3 separate regions of the Homo sapiens genome follow, and regions 1 and 3 are each linked to region 2. The links come from fine-mapping of genetic effects on gene expression. Tissue or cell type: whole blood. Region 2 holds a variant in brackets; each other region holds the start of a gene. Each region is shown on its reference strand, or each on the opposite one.

Region 1 (2,649 bases), not on the chromosome of region 2:
GATGCGGCTGTCTTCATCGCACATCACCATGGGATTTTCTTGTTCTTACATCTGTCCATTTGTTTCTGGCCACAGAGAGACATCTGGAATGTCAGCTCCCTGGTGGCTCGGCCTCGTCTGTCTAGTTAACAGCTCTATCCCAGCTCCCAGAATGGTGCCCGGTGGGAAGGAGATGCTCAATATTTGGGGGCTGAACACGTAATTCTCTCCAGGACTTGTCCTCCTCCCCATCCTTTCTTCCACCACCACCAGCCTCCATCTGGCTGGACCTGGCTCAGCTTCCAGAGGTGCGTGAGCCACAGTGGGCTCCCAGCTCCTGGGTCTCAGCGCTGACTGGCATGGCCAGCAGGCTGTTGTTACTGGAGAACCAGCTGTGCCCAAGACCCGCAGTTTGGTTCAGAGCTGCCTCAGGGAAGAGCATGCTGCTGACATCGAGGCCAGGCCTAGTTGGGCGGCCCCACCTTGGCCAGGGTTGTGGGGTGAGGTCATGCCCAGCCCTGCTGCCCTGCCCAGGAGGGAAGTGCTGGGAGTAACCAGTACCAGCACAGCAAGGCAAGCAACTGGGGAGAGGAGGCACAGCTCCTGGGATCAGAGTTGGGGGTGGGGGCAGGAAGAGCCTGTACCAGCGCCACATCCCTCTGAAAGGGTCCAGGAAAGAACCTGCCCTAAGCAAGCCCACCTCACACTGCCCAAGTGGAGTCTCCTAGAGATACTGCCAGGCCCCTCGCTGCCCTGGCCATCAGACCCCTCCAACCCACACCCTCCATCCAAGCGGAAGCGCCCCAGCAACTGACGTGTCCCCATGGCTTGGGGCAGGCAGGCTGCACAGAGCCCCTGCTCTGCCACATCACCCAGGTGCCCAGCCTCGGCTCATGCCCCTTTTCAGTAATAGAAAGCATGTAACTGGATCTAGGGCCTTGCGGGCCCTGGGGGAGAAGGTGGACAGGACCTTGGGGGCCAATGGAGAAAGGTTCAAGGACAGGAGGCAGCTGGCCATGAGTTTGGGCTGTGGGGAGAAACCCCATAGGCAGGAGGGGGTCGGCAGTGGGGGCCAGCTGGGGTACAGAAAATCATCTCTTGGAATTTGGAGGAGGTGAGCGAACAGGAGGCCCCGGGGAGGAGCAGGAAGGCAGAGAGAAGGTTGGGAGCTGCCAGGGGCTGGGTTATGCCCCTTCCGGGGGGGCAGGCCCGGGAGCGCAGGGCCTGGGTTGCTCGGATGAGGTTTGTGTGGGTGCGGGTGAGGTCAGCTCGCGACCTGGGCTCCCCCGGAGAGGAAAGCTGCGGGTGGAGAGAGCGCAGGGAGTTTCAGGGCCCAGGCACTGGCTTTTGGGGGGCGGGTCTCTAAGCTCCCCACCCGAGAGTAGGAAGGTCCCATGGGACGGAGCGTCCTCAGGTTCAGGAAGTGACTGAGGGTCCTCAGGGGTGGGAGTCGCCGAGACTCTTGCAGGCTCTGGGCGGCCTATGTCCCCCTCCCTGCCTCACGCCCCCCAATTTACCTGGGCGCCGAGGCCCGGGCCAGGAGCGCCTGCTCAGCGGCGCCGCGGAGCAGGCTCATGCCCGCGTCACGGCGCGGCTGGCGGGGGCGGCAGGGCGGCGGCGGCGCCGGGCTCCAGGCGGGGACGGCGAGGGAGGCGCGGCCGCAGGGCTAGGGATCGGGCTCCGGCTGGGGCTCCGGCTGGGACTCCGCTCCGCTCCCCCCTCCGCCAGGTCTCGCCGCTGCGCCCCGCCCCCTGCCCCGCCCTGGCGGCCGGCCCCCGCCGTATTCCTCCGAGCCGCGGGACGCGCGATTCTGCCCTGGCGCCCTGGCACCCCCGCACCCGCTTCAGGTCGCCCCCGGTACCCCCAGCTCATTCCCACCGCCCCTCCCTGGGCCCCAAAGCCCACATGGCCTCTCAGCCCCTGAAAGCTGAACTCCACATCAGCTCCCAGCCCCCACATCTCAACCCCTTCACTTCTTCAGGAATCACATACACACCCATACGCCACATCAGCTCCCAGCCCCCATATCTCAATTCCTTCACTTCTTCAGGAATCACATACACACCCATTGCTCCCCTAACCCCATCATGACTCTCTGGGCCCTCACAGCCCAGCTCTCCCAGCCCCACAGTGACCTCCTCTGCTACCCCTCCTCAAGTAGCCGCACCAGCACCTCTGTCTTCCCTGGTCTCCTCTCCACCCTCAAAACATCCAGTTCTCCCATTCTAGGTCCCCCTGAGACTTTGCCCTCAAGCTCAAACTTCATTCCCCTTCATTGCTGCCCCCACCCAGCCCCCAACCCCCTCACCTCTGCCCTTCGGGCCTGTGCAGTGGTTGACTCACTGATCTGTCGGAATCCCCAGTCACAGGCCTCAGCTGTGCCAGGCAGGGACAAGAGAAGTTGCCCAGTGCCTCCTCTGGGGAGGAGCTGTCCCCCCTCTGGTTTTCACGTCTGTACCTTTTTACACCAGGGCTTCTCAAAGTGTAGTCCCTGGACCAGAAGCTTCCCATCACCTTGAAACTTGTTAGAAATGCAAATTCCCTGCCCTACTCAGACCTATGAAATCAGAATTTTTGGGGGTTTCCAGCAGAAATGTGTGTTTTAACAGGCCAGGTGATTCTGATGCACACGAATGTGTGAGAACCACTGCTTTAGACCATATATACAAA
Region 2 (2,803 bases):
GTGTATAGACCTTTTTCTTTTTATTATTTCCTAAACAATACAATATAACAATAGCATTTACAAGGTGTTAGATATTGCAAGTAATCTAAAGATAATTTAAATTATACAGGAGGATGTGCATAAGTTATAGACAAATACTTCACCACTTTATATCAGGGACTGAACATCTACAGATTTTAGTAGTCACAGTTGGTCCTGAAGCAATTCCCCACAAAAACTGAGGGACAATTCAATACGCTATCACCAGGAAATACAGCTTAGATTTAAAGATACAATTGTTGAAATTAAAAAGACAAGAAAGATATACCATGCAAACAATAACCATGAGAGAACAGGAATGGCTGTACAAATAGCAGGTAAAATAGACTTTAAGACAAAAAAAATTATAGGAGACAATGACAGACACTTCACAATGACAAAAGGGTCAACACATCAGGAAGATATATAATTTAAGTGCATATGCACTTAAAAACAGCCAAAAAATACATGAAGCAAAAACTGAATTGAAAGGAGAAATATGTATTTCATCAATAATAGTTGAAAACTGTAATACCCTCTTCAATAACTGACAGAACAACTAGTCAGAAAATAGCAGGAATATAGAAGACTTGAACAACATCTCCCCCAGCTCAACTTAACTGACTTTTGTAGAACACTCCACCCACTGACATATTCTTCTCAACTGAATGTGGAACAGTCTTCATCAAATAAATCATATGCTGGGTCACAAAATATTCTCAATAAATCTAAGAGACTGAAGTCATATAAAATATATTCTCTACCATAATGGAATTAAATGAGAGATCCACAATAGGAAGAAATCTAGAAAAACCCCAAGTAATTGGAAATTAAGCAGCACGTTACCAAATTAACCAGTGGGTCAAAGGAAAAAAATCATGTGGGAAATTGTAAAATATTTTAAATGGAATTAAAATGAAAACACAACATACCAAAATTTATAGGACACAGTTCAAATAGAGCTTACAGGGAAATTTACATCTTTAACATGCATACCAGAAAATAACAATGTCTTAGAGCAACAACTGAGGCTTTCAGCTTTCGGCTTTCAGATACTAGAAAAAGCAAACTAAAGCTAAAGAGAGCAGAAGAAAGGGCATATATTTTGTGCTAACACTATACAGGGCATTGGACACTCTTGCAGTACAATGTAGAATGGTACATAGAATAGAAATCAAGAAACATTTCTTCACAGGACCAAATAGTAAATAGTTCAGGCTTTCTGAGCCATAAAATCTCTGTAGCAGCTACTCAACTCCGCAATTATAGCATGAAAAAGACATAGACATTGAGTATGAATGCATATGACTGTATGTCCAAGAAGTTTTATTTATGAGCACCGAAATTTGAGTTTTCTATAATTTCTACATGTCAGGAAATAGTATGCTTGTTTTGAGGTTTTTGCAACCATTTAAAAAAATGTAAAAACCATTCTTAGTTCACAATTGAATACTAACAGGGA[C/G]TAGCCCAAATGTGGTCCATTGCCATAGTTTGCTCATCCCTACCTGATTGATAGAGTCAAAAAAAAAAGAAAGAAAGAAAGAAAGAAGAAAAAGGAAGAAAGAAACCATAAGCATTGATCCCCACTGAGGAAGGGACTGTATCTTTTTAGTTCTGTATCTTCAGCCAGTTAATACATGAGATAACAGAGTTTAGGAGAAGTGGTGGCATCCCATGGAATCTCTAGGATGAAAGAGAAGTAGCTGGACTGACTTGCTGGTACAGTTTATAGAAATAGGATTACTTAGTTCTGGTAAATCTTTAGAGGGAAGGAACTAAAGATGAAATCTAACATAGTAAAATTTCATTCATAGTAAGTACCTAATATATTTATTTTATTTAATCATCACAAACCTTCCATTTTACAGTATTCCGCCTCAAGATCCCATAAGTATTAAATGGCCAAAGCAGGAATAGAAGAGGGTGGTAGCTTAAAGCTCAATTCTTTTTCCAGGAAGCCGAAAATAAATGGTGGTCATGAGCTCATCCTCTGCTGTCTCCATGCTTCTCTTTCAGTATTAACACATAGAGATCACAGTTAGGAAAGCATGAGCCTGGATCCCAGCAACAGCCCTGGGCTACTTCTTGCAGATCCTCATCACTGCCACTTAATGTGTATGAGCCTCAAAATTCTCTGGCTGTGTCATGGCAATGATAATGACTCTACCTATATCCCTGATAATTAGGAAGATCAAGTAAGATCATGAGAGTGAGAGTGTTTTGAAAAGTACAAAATATGATACAAATAGATGGTGGAACTTTTTTTTCATTCTTTATTGAGTTGGGCCTTATTTTTTTTCCAGAATGGACACATCTTTGTGAATCAATCACTGTGCTTTATAAGCATGTGTCAGCTTTTTCTACATGTGATGCGTGCCTGGATGCAGCCCTTGTTTATGGGCAGGCCTCAGTGTGGGAGAGATCTCTATCTGTGGGTATTCAGATAACTAGGACACCCTGTTCTGTTTATAAGTCAATCTTTTACTGATGGGATTTTGACTTTTTCCCTCCTAGTAGCATATTATGGACAATATTTGTTACTGGCATGACTAACTATAAAGTTAGAATACTCAGCACCCTCTTCCTAAATTATAGCAGCAATGATGGTAGAAAACACTCTTTTACAAAAGAGATATCTGACTTTCTCTGGTTTTGAATCTAATGAACATCAGGATGCTTGAAGTTTAAGGTTAGATAAGTATCAAGAAGCTGAATGCTTATCTGGAAACTTTGAACTTTCAGTGCCTATTTGGGTAGAAAATGTCATGATTATACTTTGTTGCCT
Region 3 (2,803 bases), not on the chromosome of region 2:
GAGATGGGGTTTCACCATGTCGGCCAGGATGGACTTAATCTCCGGACTTTGTGATCTATCCACCTTGGCCTCCCAAAGAGCTGGGATTACAGGCGTGAGCCACCACTCCCGGCTGAGACTATTCTTATCATACCACCTGCCCTACCGGAAACAGACTCAGAGAGAAGATTCTGCAAACAGTCTGTAAGACTGTGGTTTCAGTGGTAATGCCCAGCCAGGCGGCACCAAGCCCTGTCCCCAGCCCTAGACAGCACTTGTTGAAACAGGAACTGAGGCCCCTCTCAGGGAACTTGGGGAGTAGAATCAGGCTGTTCTGGATGACTGGAGGGTAGAGTTGAAGCTGGCTTGTCTGAGAGGAATGATTTGGCCACCTTCTGAGCCCTGGGCCCCCAGAGAGCTGAGGAGGAGAGTTAATATCAGAGAGCTACTGTGTGTGTTCGAGTCCAGGGAGCAGCAGTTAGCTTCAGCCAGAGCCTGAAAAAAGAAATAGAGATTATTAGCATTAAGGAAGAGAAGGCTGCAGTGGGACCTCGGCGTGGTCGTTTTGTCATGGGGACTGAGTTGAGCTCCTTCTCCCTGAATACATATTGTGAGCAAATTGACATAGTTTGCATGTGAGAGATTTAGGTTAGATGTCAAGGAGATCTTTCTGTCAGTAAGAGAGTTCAAGCTTTGGAACAGGGCTCAAGGGAGACCAGGGGCTGCCTTTGCTTGAGGACCTCCAAGAATAGGTCAAGATTCTCTGGGCTCTGGGAGCCTCATAGCAAGATGGCGGAGGCGGGGGAGGGGGAGTTGTATGAAATGATCTGGAAGCTTTCTTCCAGGTCAAAAATGCCACATTCCCGAGCTTTTGGGTAGGAATCAAGTTCCTCTAGATTTAGCTATTTGACAGAGTCCAGGACGGGGGTGGGGGGTGGGGGGTGGGGTCTGATCTTATGTGCCGAAGTTAGAAGGAGTTTCTGCAACAACCCCTCGTCATTTTTGGCAGGTCCAAGATGTGGAGGGTGACTTAGGTGTGTGTGAGCAAGGTTCCAGAGGGAAGCACCTGCGGTGAATAAACCGTCTCATTCTAGGCGTTTGGGGTCTATCAAAGCTGGGTGGCTTCCTCCTTCCTAGCAAGTGAACTGCACCCAAATCCCTCCTTGTTTTGTTTCAGCTCCAAGGGAAACGATCGCGGCACATTCCCTTCCCCTCTCCAGATGTTGGCATGCGGGGCACCTTGTGGGCGACCCCGCCTGGACGGCTTCGCGGCTCCCGGGCGATCACCCTGGTGCCTGCCGCCTGGCCCGGGGGAGCCCGGTCTCTAATTAGGCCTGACCGCGTCCCCATTCCAGCGCTCCTGCAGATGGGAGGGAGGGCCATGTTTCCCCCCCCAGGGGCACCGAAATAGCCTCGTAGTCCCGCGGAGACAGCAGGCAGCCGTGGCTGACGCGGGACCAAGGCTTGGCAGGGAGCGCGCTGCTGTGGAAGGTCCTTGGGAGGCTGCGACCGCCTCGGAGAGGGCGGGCGGGGGAGAACGGGGCGGGGGGTGGGGCGGGGGCCAGGGGCGGCCTCTCGGGCTGGGCCGGCAGAGCGGCCACTTTGCGCGCGGCCTCTGGAGCTCCAGCTGCGCCCCGCCACCACTGGCCGCTCGCACTACCAGCCTGTCTCGCACGCTAAGTAAGTAGACAGCTCCCCTAGCTGGATTCAGGGGGCTGGTGATGCCTCTGCTAGCCTAGTTGGGAACAGTGCAGGTTTGTCACTAATTGGATAGTAGGTGTAAGTGTGTCAGTGGGAGTGCTTGTGAAGGGGAGCTTGCGCCAGTGTGAGGGAGTGTGTCTGGATGGGATGTCCACATGTGGAATTTTCTAGCATGTGCCCCAGGGTGCGAGTGTGGGTGAACGAGTGTGTCAGAGTGTGTGGTGGCCTGGAGTGGGCCACAGGTATTTGCCTGTGTGGCACCTGCTGCCCTGGGTGCACTGTGTCTGTACCTGTGGAAATGCCTGTGTGTGTGGCAGGAAGGCCCCCAGGTGGGCTGAGCCAGTCCACATGTGGATGAGTGGATGTGCCAGTGTGAACCCAGGAAGGCAGAAATTGGGGCTAGGGAGTGTTATCTGAACTCAGGCTTTCTAAGGTGACCTGACTTGTCCCAGCTGGGGTGTCTTCTCTGTGGGTCATTCAGCTTTGGTTTCTCAGGGCTTGGAGAAGGACAGAAGCTCAGAGCCCTCACACAACACTGGAGTGAATGTGGCTCTGACTAACCCCATCTGGCTAGACCAGGGTCAGGGAGACAGCTTGGGAGACCCCACTCTTAAACCAGGAGAAGAGACAGGAGGCCAGGGGATGAGTGGACCATATGGCCATGGCCACCCACAAACACTCGCAGTGCACCCACGCTTACATGCTCAGCATACACACATTCCTGTCCATGTGCACCAGTCTTGCACACACTCTTCTCAGGATAGCCATGCAACCATTCACACTTTCAACATGTATACCTGTGGACAACGACATGTATGCAACATGCACCCACTTTGTTCAATGCATATGCGCAAATGTATCCCTGGTGTGGCCCCACCCTCAGCCGCTAGCCTCCTCCCACTTTTGCCCCTTTTAATCTATATATTATACCTCTGACAATGGGTCCAAGAAACTGGCCTCAGTGGGGAATATTTTAAGTCAGGGACTTTGGCTGTGGGGGTCAGGGCAGATGGTGATGTGGTGCCTTTGAGGGGTTCCATTGAATCTGAAACTGAGGCTGTCCATGGAGCTCAGCCAGAGAGCATCTTGTCCCTTTAGCTCTGGGACTTAGAAGCACTGTTCG

The links. PIP is the estimated chance that this variant, and not a neighbour inherited with it, causes the effect.
Region 1: DOK4 starts here. The variant in region 2 is the best candidate, but not a certain one, in a credible set for the expression of DOK4 in whole blood (TOPMed, PIP 0.50).
Region 3: INSC starts here. The variant in region 2 is the best candidate, but not a certain one, in a credible set for the expression of INSC in whole blood (TOPMed, PIP 0.65).

What each region holds. Positions count from the first base shown.
Region 1 is chr16:57,484,809-57,487,457 of GRCh38, forward strand. It overlaps DOK4 (docking protein 4), which reads right to left and starts at 1,685. Exons shown (of 9, transcript NM_018110.5): 1 at 1,497-1,685. RefSeq lists an enhancer at 938-1,734 and a silencer at 1,566-1,865.
Region 2 is chr7:50,259,381-50,262,183 of GRCh38, forward strand. No RefSeq gene overlaps it. Among named protein-coding and RNA genes, the nearest start is that of IKZF1, 44 kb to the right of the region's middle. The variant C/G (reference allele first, on the strand shown) is at 1,481.
Region 3 is chr11:15,113,345-15,116,147 of GRCh38, forward strand. It overlaps INSC (INSC spindle orientation adaptor protein), which reads left to right and starts at 1,579. Exons shown (of 13, transcript NM_001042536.3): 1 at 1,579-1,659. RefSeq lists enhancers at 52-101, 753-1,286.